2 separate regions of the Homo sapiens genome follow, and region 2 is reported to be linked to region 1. The links are microRNA targets in miRTarBase. Many come from high-throughput screens and were not tested one by one. Region 1 holds a microRNA gene; the other region holds the end of a gene's coding sequence.
The links. Region 1 holds the annotated microRNA hsa-miR-4697-5p (AGGGGGCGCAGUCACUGACGUG, at 1,496-1,517, shown strand). A microRNA usually pairs through its seed, bases 2 to 8, with sites in the 3' UTR of a target mRNA and lowers its output. Matches are read on the target gene's strand: a 7mer-m8 pairs with bases 2 to 8, a 7mer-A1 pairs with bases 2 to 7 and ends in A, and an 8mer does both.

Region 2: the mRNA of PAX2 is a reported target of hsa-miR-4697-5p. Seed matches in the 3' UTR shown: 8mer at 490-497 and 7mer-m8 at 2,045-2,051.

Annotation. Positions count from the first base shown.
Region 1 is chr11:133,895,921-133,900,067 of GRCh38, reverse strand. It overlaps MIR4697 (microRNA 4697), which reads left to right and starts at 1,487; the gene lies at 1,487-1,564. It overlaps IGSF9B (immunoglobulin superfamily member 9B), which reads left to right. Exons shown (of 20, transcript NM_001277285.4): 20 at 1-3,630. RefSeq lists an enhancer at 3,829-4,147.
Region 2 is chr10:100,827,356-100,831,355 of GRCh38, forward strand. PAX2 (paired box 2) reads left to right here. Exons shown (of 10, transcript NM_000278.5): 10 at 188-2,589. The coding sequence ends at 264. Among named protein-coding and RNA genes, the nearest start is that of SLF2, 84 kb to the right of the region's middle.

The DNA.
Region 1 (4,147 bases):
GACCTATGAGGCCCTGCCATTCAGTCAGGCACTGTCCTTGGGTCCTCAAATTAACTGCTGAGAACACTCCCCACTTTCCGAGGACGCTGATGGGAAATGGGCTCTGTCCATGCAGCTGGAAGGATCCAGTGCTGGTGCCACTGTCAGTGGCACCATCCTTGCCTTGAATGATCTTTCTTGCAGGCTCCTGCAGCTGAGTGTTTCTTGTAAGATTTTTCAGGGGGATTGGGCAAGAAGAAGAGGTGCAAATTCTGTTCCCTTCCTACCTTGAAGCCTTCCCAGACCACCACGGTCTCTGCACAAGGGAGGCTCCCATTACTGTTCTGTTGGCTTCTAGACCCACCATCCCCTCTCTTTCTGTGGACTCTGCCCGACTTCTGGCCACATGCAACCAGCAGAGTAAACTGCTCCAACACCTCGGGCATGTCCTAGGGCTTGCCCTCCCACCAGGGCCAGCCCAAGATTAGGTCCTCAGCAGCATCAAGGTCTGGGAGAGCCACTGGCCCACATGTCACCATTCTATTCCTCAGCCTCCAACAGGACTCTTCATTTTGGGGAGGGAAAGGGAAGATGGGGCCATAGCCCCTACCTTGAAATTGTACAGTGTGGAGGGGATGTTAGTGCCTACCTGTGACCTTTCTGCTCCACTGCTCAGCAAGATGAGGTAAGGTTGGGTGTCAGAGGGGACCTCCAGCTTCTCTGAAGAGCCAGCCCTTAAGGCACTTGGAGCAAAGGTCATTGAGATCAGCTTTATGTGGAGTAAGGAGGAGGCCTGGGAACCGCTTGTGGCATCAGTTGGGGCGACAGGTGGATGAGTGTGCTCTGATGGAGCTTTTACGGCCCACAGCCACTGCCAGGAGCCTGAGCTCTTCCCCATGCTTGGGACACGTTCCTTGGTCCCCACAGCAGAATGGACATTGAATTTTGGTGCTTTTCCCTTTGGTAGAAGGTGGAGGTATCTGAGGAGTTGTTTCTGTCTTGCTACCTCTGTCTACTATATAGAGCAAGAGTCGGGAATAGGGAGATGTGTGAGAATCACTCTCCCATGGATCAGTGTGGGCCCTGTCCCTCTTCCCCACTGTCACCAACCAGCAGCTTGGGGAAAAGGCTCTGTCGTGGATTTTTGCTGCCTGCTTCCCGCTTCCACTCTTCTTGGCGGTAGATGTTCATGGTGATCCACTTTGGGCGGTCTGAAAGTAGGAGGTGGGGGAAGAGGCAAGCCTGCACACACACTTCCTGTCCACAGGGGGTTGCCTGTGGCATTGGAGGGTGGAGTCTCAGAGTCCAGGGACTGGGAGGAAGGTACTTGATGGGATGGTCTTGATTCTGGAACTTTAGACTGAGGTGTTAGAAAGGGGAATTGTTGGCTAGGGGAGAAGAGCAGTTTAACGCTCCACTTGCTAAGTCGTCTGTATCAGTGTCAGAAGGTCTTGACCTCCCATTCAGATTTAATTTCCTAACTGCCAGGTGTGGGGCTGGGGATAGAGGGCCCAGAAGGGGGCGCAGTCACTGACGTGAAGGGACCACATCCCGCTTCATGTCAGTGACTCCTGCCCCTTGGTCTTCAGTGTTTTTCTCTTCCCCAGGAGGGACTTTGATCATGCAGGATAGAATTCTCCCATCGCACACCTGGGGGCAAGTTTTAGATGAGCTTCTTTCCTCCATTTCACCTGGTGGTCTGAGGACACACAGAGGGTGGGGGTGAGCAGGCAGTGTGGGTGGGGAGGGGCTACCTCCCCCAGACCCCTTACAAACTCTGTACCTCTCGGTGCGCGGCAGCCTCTTGCTGTAGTTCTTCTTTTCTGGATATGACTGTCAGTTTCGTCATGAGATTTCTTGCTCTCATTTCGAACTCTTTCTTTCTTCCACTTTCTTTGGGGGCGACCCCCGATCCATGCCAGGTCTTCCTGTGAAGACCGTTCCAACCTCGTTTCCATTTCTTGAATGTTGAGTATTACAACATCACTGCGCTAGGGTGCTTCATGGTGCTGTTCTCGAAGAGGCCAGTTGGGCTGAATCTCCTTCCTCCCACTGGCTCCTGATATCTTGCTGTATTTTGTCTTCTTTCTGATTTTTCCCTAGGGGTTTGGGGTGGGTGACTTAGGGGCGGCTTTTGTGTTCTCCCTCTCTCTCTCTTTCTTTTCTGTATGTATGTATGGACTGGTTAAAGTGAGTTTGGGCAGCTGACTTTATGGTATGGGTTGGCTGACTTTTGTTCAACATTAAAGACAAACCAACAAATTGTACAGCTGCACACAGAACACCTTTGAGTGTGAACTTGAATGGCAACTAGAGGCTTACTTTTTGAACTTCAGGTATGTAACTCAAAAGTAAATAAAACCACTATTTTTTCAGTAAGCTTTTTTTTCTTCTAAAAGATGACTTAGAAATCAAACTATAAGAACATGAAATCGGTGCTGTACCAAAGCCTTATATGAACATATTCTACACTCTGTATAACCTGTCTGTGAGGAGCTCCCTGCTCTATCACCCTCTTCTCAAAAGCCTGGGAATGCCAGCGCGTGCCAAGCCTGGGGCTGGGTCTTGGGGACCTGTGGGCCAAGGGCACCCTGGGAAGTAAAAGATGACGGTGAGGATGGGACACCCTTCTGCTGCCTGAGCAGACTGCAAGGAAACCAGATGTGTGTGTGTGCGCGCACCTGCATATATATGTGTGCATACCTGTGCGTGTGTGTGCGTGTGCGTGTGTGCACGCAAGAGAGTGAGAGCGGGAGAGAGCTCACAGGTGCACAGTGTCATGGTGAATGTACTAAGTACGAGCTTGAAGGGAGGCCCAGGTTGGCTCTGGGAGTGGGGCGGTGTGGGAATGAAGGGGGGATGCTCTCTCCCCTGTTTTCTGCCTCCTTCCCTTCTCCGTCAGGGAAGGGAGGTGTATTGGAAACAGCTACACTCTCAATCAGGTGCTTTTTTTCCCTCAAAATCTCCAAACTCAAAGCATTTATAAGGGGCCCTTCCAATGGGCAGGCACCCCCAGCCACCAAATCACAGACTTCCAAGAGTAGGAGGAACTGTCTCCTCCCGAACCCTTCCTTGCTTTCCTGGGGAAGAGGGTTCTTCCTGCAGGGACCCTGGGCATCCTGCTGCTGGGCCTGGGCCTATAGACTGCCCTGCCCCTTCTTCCCAAACACTGAGAAGACCCCGCTGGAGATGACCCCAAAGCCACGCCTGCTCTACGGCCCTAAGCAATAGACGCCTGCCCTGGCTGCTGATGATGGTGATCCCTTTGTCCTTTGACTTGGCAGTCAAAAATGGAGTGACACCCCAGACTCAGTCAGGAAGAGAACCTGCAGCCTGCCTCAGCTCAGGCTACCACGCCAGGCTCCACTCGCTGGTATTTCCAGGCTTGCTAAGTACTAACCAACTCATCCCCAGTAACACTGCATGTTCATATCCTGAATTACAAATCAAAATGAGCAAACACGTGCATAAGCAAATGAGAAAAAAGAAGGCACACATCAAATGATGAGATGTGCAGCCAGTGCAGGTACCCCGGGAGTGTTGCAAGTTAAACTGATGAAAAGACGTTTAGTATTTAATTGCTCCTCATGTAACATTACTCTGCTTCAGAAATGTTTTGTATTTTGATATAAATAAACATTTGCTAAAAAAGTTCATTTTCTAATTTTTTTGTGTACCTAGGGAGTGCTTCCTGATGTTGTCTCACCCCTGGCCCTAGGTCTCCCTAATCAACCCACTTTAAACTCACGACTCAACATGATTCTGAAATGGTTTGCGGCTGGGAGATGAAGAGGTTGCCTTTCGTTCATTGAACACACATGTACTGAGGGTATACTGTGTGTGAGTCACTGTTTAGTTCACTTGGGGTGCACAAGTGAATAGGCCAGACAAGGCTCCTGCTCCTGGAGGGCTTTCATTCTAGTGATAGGGACAGAGAATGAGTCATTATTGCACTAAGAAAATGACATCGAATGGCATAAGGCAAAAAAAAGGAGCAGGGTAAGGGGCAGCTGACGTACAGAAGGAAGGAGGGGGCTGCGGTTTAGAGCGCTATTTTAGAGTGCTCAGAGAGGGTCTCAGCGGGAGGCAGCACTGGAGCAAAAGCAGAAAGGGGGTGGCTTGTCTGGTGAATGCACACACTTCTCTTTTACTTTGTAGGCTCTTTGCA
Region 2 (4,000 bases), not on the chromosome of region 1:
GTCCCTCTCATGCCCCGTGAACGCAACTATTCTCCGGGGCAACTGGCTCCACTGCCCAGCCAAGGTCTCCCAGTCCGGATCCCGCTGGACCCCAGCCAGGGGAGGTCTTTTCTGTGCTTTTCTTTCCTTTTTTGTTCTCCTGTTTGTCCTCTCACCCAGCCCATTCTTCTCCTGTGTTAACTTCCAGGTTCCCCTTATTATTATAGTGCCGCCCCCCGGGGCTCCGCCCCTGCCGCTGCTGCCGCTGCCTATGACCGCCACTAGTTACCGCGGGGACCACATCAAGCTTCAGGCCGACAGCTTCGGCCTCCACATCGTCCCCGTCTGACCCCACCCCGGAGGGAGGGAGGACCGACGCGACGCGATGCCTCCCGGCCACCGCCCCAGCCTCACCCCATCCCACGACCCCCGCAACCCTTCACATCACCCCCCTCGAAGGTCGGACAGGACGGGTGGAGCCGTGGGCGGGACCCTCAGGCCCGGGCCCGCCGCCCCCAGCCCCGCCTGCCGCCCCTCCCCGCCTGCCTGGACTGCGCGGCGCCGTGAGGGGGATTCGGCCCAGCTCGTCCCGGCCTCCACCAAGCCAGCCCCGAAGCCCGCCAGCCACCCTGCCGGACTCGGGCGCGACCTGCTGGCGCGCGCCGGATGTTTCTGTGACACACAATCAGCGCGGACCGCAGCGCGGCCCAGCCCCGGGCACCCGCCTCGGACGCTCGGGCGCCAGGAGGCTTCGCTGGAGGGGCTGGGCCAAGGAGATTAAGAAGAAAACGACTTTCTGCAGGAGGAAGAGCCCGCTGCCGAATCCCTGGGAAAAATTCTTTTCCCCCAGTGCCAGCCGGACTGCCCTCGCCTTCCGGGTGTGCCCTGTCCCAGAAGATGGAATGGGGGTGTGGGGGTCCGGCTCTAGGAACGGGCTTTGGGGGCGTCAGGTCTTTCCAAGGTTGGGACCCAAGGATCGGGGGGCCCAGCAGCCCGCACCGATCGAGCCGGACTCTCGGCTCTTCACTGCTCCTCCTGGCCTGCCTAGTTCCCCAGGGCCCGGCACCTCCTGCTGCGAGACCCGGCTCTCAGCCCTGCCTTGCCCCTACCTCAGCGTCTCTTCCACCTGCTGGCCTCCCAGTTTCCCCTCCTGCCAGTCCTTCGCCTGTCCCTTGACGCCCTGCATCCTCCTCCCTGACTCGCAGCCCCATCGGACGCTCTCCCGGGACCGCCGCAGGACCAGTTTCCATAGACTGCGGACTGGGGTCTTCCTCCAGCAGTTACTTGATGCCCCCTCCCCCGACACAGACTCTCAATCTGCCGGTGGTAAGAACCGGTTCTGAGCTGGCGTCTGAGCTGCTGCGGGGTGGAAGTGGGGGGCTGCCCACTCCACTCCTCCCATCCCCTCCCAGCCTCCTCCTCCGGCAGGAACTGAACAGAACCACAAAAAGTCTACATTTATTTAATATGATGGTCTTTGCAAAAAGGAACAAAACAACACAAAAGCCCACCAGGCTGCTGCTTTGTGGAAAGACGGTGTGTGTCGTGTGAAGGCGAAACCCGGTGTACATAACCCCTCCCCCTCCGCCCCGCCCCGCCCGGCCCCGTAGAGTCCCTGTCGCCCGCCGGCCCTGCCTGTAGATACGCCCCGCTGTCTGTGCTGTGAGAGTCGCCGCTCGCTGGGGGGGAAGGGGGGGACACAGCTACACGCCCATTAAAGCACAGCACGTCCTGGGGGAGGGGGGCATTTTTTATGTTACAAAAAAAAATTACGAAAGAAAAGAAATCTCTATGCAAAATGACGAACATGGTCCTGTGGACTCCTCTGGCCTGTTTTGTTGGCTCTTTCTCTGTAATTCCGTGTTTTCGCTTTTTCCTCCCTGCCCCTCTCTCCCTCTGCCCCTCTCTCCTCTCCGCTTCTCTCCCCCTCTGTCTCTGTCTCTCTCCGTCTCTGTCGCTCTTGTCTGTCTGTCTCTGCTCTTTCCTCGGCCTCTCTCCCCAGACCTGGCCCGGCCGCCCTGTCTCCGCAGGCTAGATCCGAGGTGGCAGCTCCAGCCCCCGGGCTCGCCCCCTCGCGGGCGTGCCCCGCGCGCCCCGGGCGGCCGAAGGCCGGGCCGCCCCGTCCCGCCCCGTAGTTGCTCTTTCGGTAGTGGCGATGCGCCCTGCATGTCTCCTCACCCGTGGATCGTGACGACTCGAAATAACAGAAACAAAGTCAATAAAGTGAAAATAAATAAAAATCCTTGAACAAATCCGAAAAGGCTTGGAGTCCTCGCCCAGATCTCTCTCCCCTGCGAGCCCTTTTTATTTGAGAAGGAAAAAGAGAAAAGAGAATCGTTTAAGGGAACCCGGCGCCCAGCCAGGCTCCAGTGGCCCGAACGGGGCGGCGAGGGCGGCGAGGGCGCCGAGGTCCGGCCCATCCCAGTCCTGTGGGGCTGGCCGGGCAGAGACCCCGGACCCAGGCCCAGGCCTAACCTGCTAAATGTCCCCGGACGGTTCTGGTCTCCTCGGCCACTTTCAGTGCGTCGGTTCGTTTTGATTCTTTTTCTTTTGTGCACATAAGAAATAAATAATAATAATAAATAAAGAATAAAATTTTGTATGTCACTCCCCATGGCTCCAAGTTTGTCTCTCCCTGTCTCTGAGATGGGCCTCCCCTCCATTGGTCGATCCCCAAAAGCCCCTTCAATGATCCTCCCAACTACACTCCCGCTGCCACCTCCAACTCCTTTGCCGAGACCCCCTTGGCGGCAGCTGAACCACGGCGAAGGCCGAGACTAGCCTGCCCTTTAGTAGCCACCCTCCCCCACGCACCCCGGCCCTGGGGACAGGAAGTTCTTACTCTCCGAAACTTCAGAATAACTCCTAGTTAGGCGCCTATACTAGGCCAACTCTGTGGTCCTACCAGTACACCCGCACCCAGATTTAGGGTGCTGGCTCTCAGAACCCGAAGTCTGAGGCCTTCTCCACGTGGGTGGAGGGGTGGTCGTCTGTCCTATCTCCTCCCTCCGTTCCCTATCCAGTGCAGTTGCGCGTGGGCGCAGCAGCAATTTTATCCCCGAAGTCTGCAATGAAACGCGAAGACCGCAGACGCTTGCCGCAAGTTTCCTCGCTCTGCGTTTACTTCTGGGCCCGAAGAATGCCCCGCAGAGGCCCTAGGAGCTGGTTCATGGGACTTCACGCGCCTCCAGTGTCTTGCGGAGCCCCAGCCCCAGCAAGCAGCGGCTGAAATTGGTGCGCCTTGTGCTGTGGTCTGGGTGTGTCCCGGAGAGGGCGCGCAGGCGCCTATGTCTGTCGCGGGGCGGTCGGCGGGTTCCTGCATAGGTATGGCTTTCTGTTCATCTATGTGTTCGTCTGTATGTCCCTGGATGGGTCTGGGGGTGTGGTAGTAGGAGAATTGTTTTTTTAGCCATCCTTGCTGTTCTTGTGTCCAGGTGTCCAGTGAAAGATCTGTATGTCTCCACCTCTCTGTTCTCTGTTTAGGAGAGGTTGCAGGGGGAAGGGGGATGTGGTGACTGTCCAGGATTGTTCTGCTGCATCAGAGATACTTGGGAGGATCGCCTTTCCATCCCTTCAGCAGCTTCCCAGCTCTGGTCCTCCCACACTCTTGTCAACACAAAGGGCCCAGCTTCCACCTGGAAACTTTCCTTCTGTGCCCCTGGGACACCTTCCCAGCCCAGCTTCTACCACAGCTTCCTCCCACTTGAAAGGCTCTTGAATCTCTGAGCTGCCAGGGATGCAAGCAGGACATTGGGGCAGACTAAGAAGTGACCTTCCCCTTTGGCTTGGGACAGTGTCTCCTAGACACCTCCTTCCCATCAGAATCCCAGAGACCTTTCTTTCAAGTCAATCTGCCCAGGCTCACCCATATCACGGCACCCTCTAGGGGATGTACAGGACCCCAACAAATCAGCAAACCTTCAATAAAGTCCATTCCTTTCCCCCTCCCTCTGCACCTGTGTCTCCCGATTCTTCATCTCAGCAAATGGCAGTTGCACCCTTCACCCTGCCTGGTGTTGGC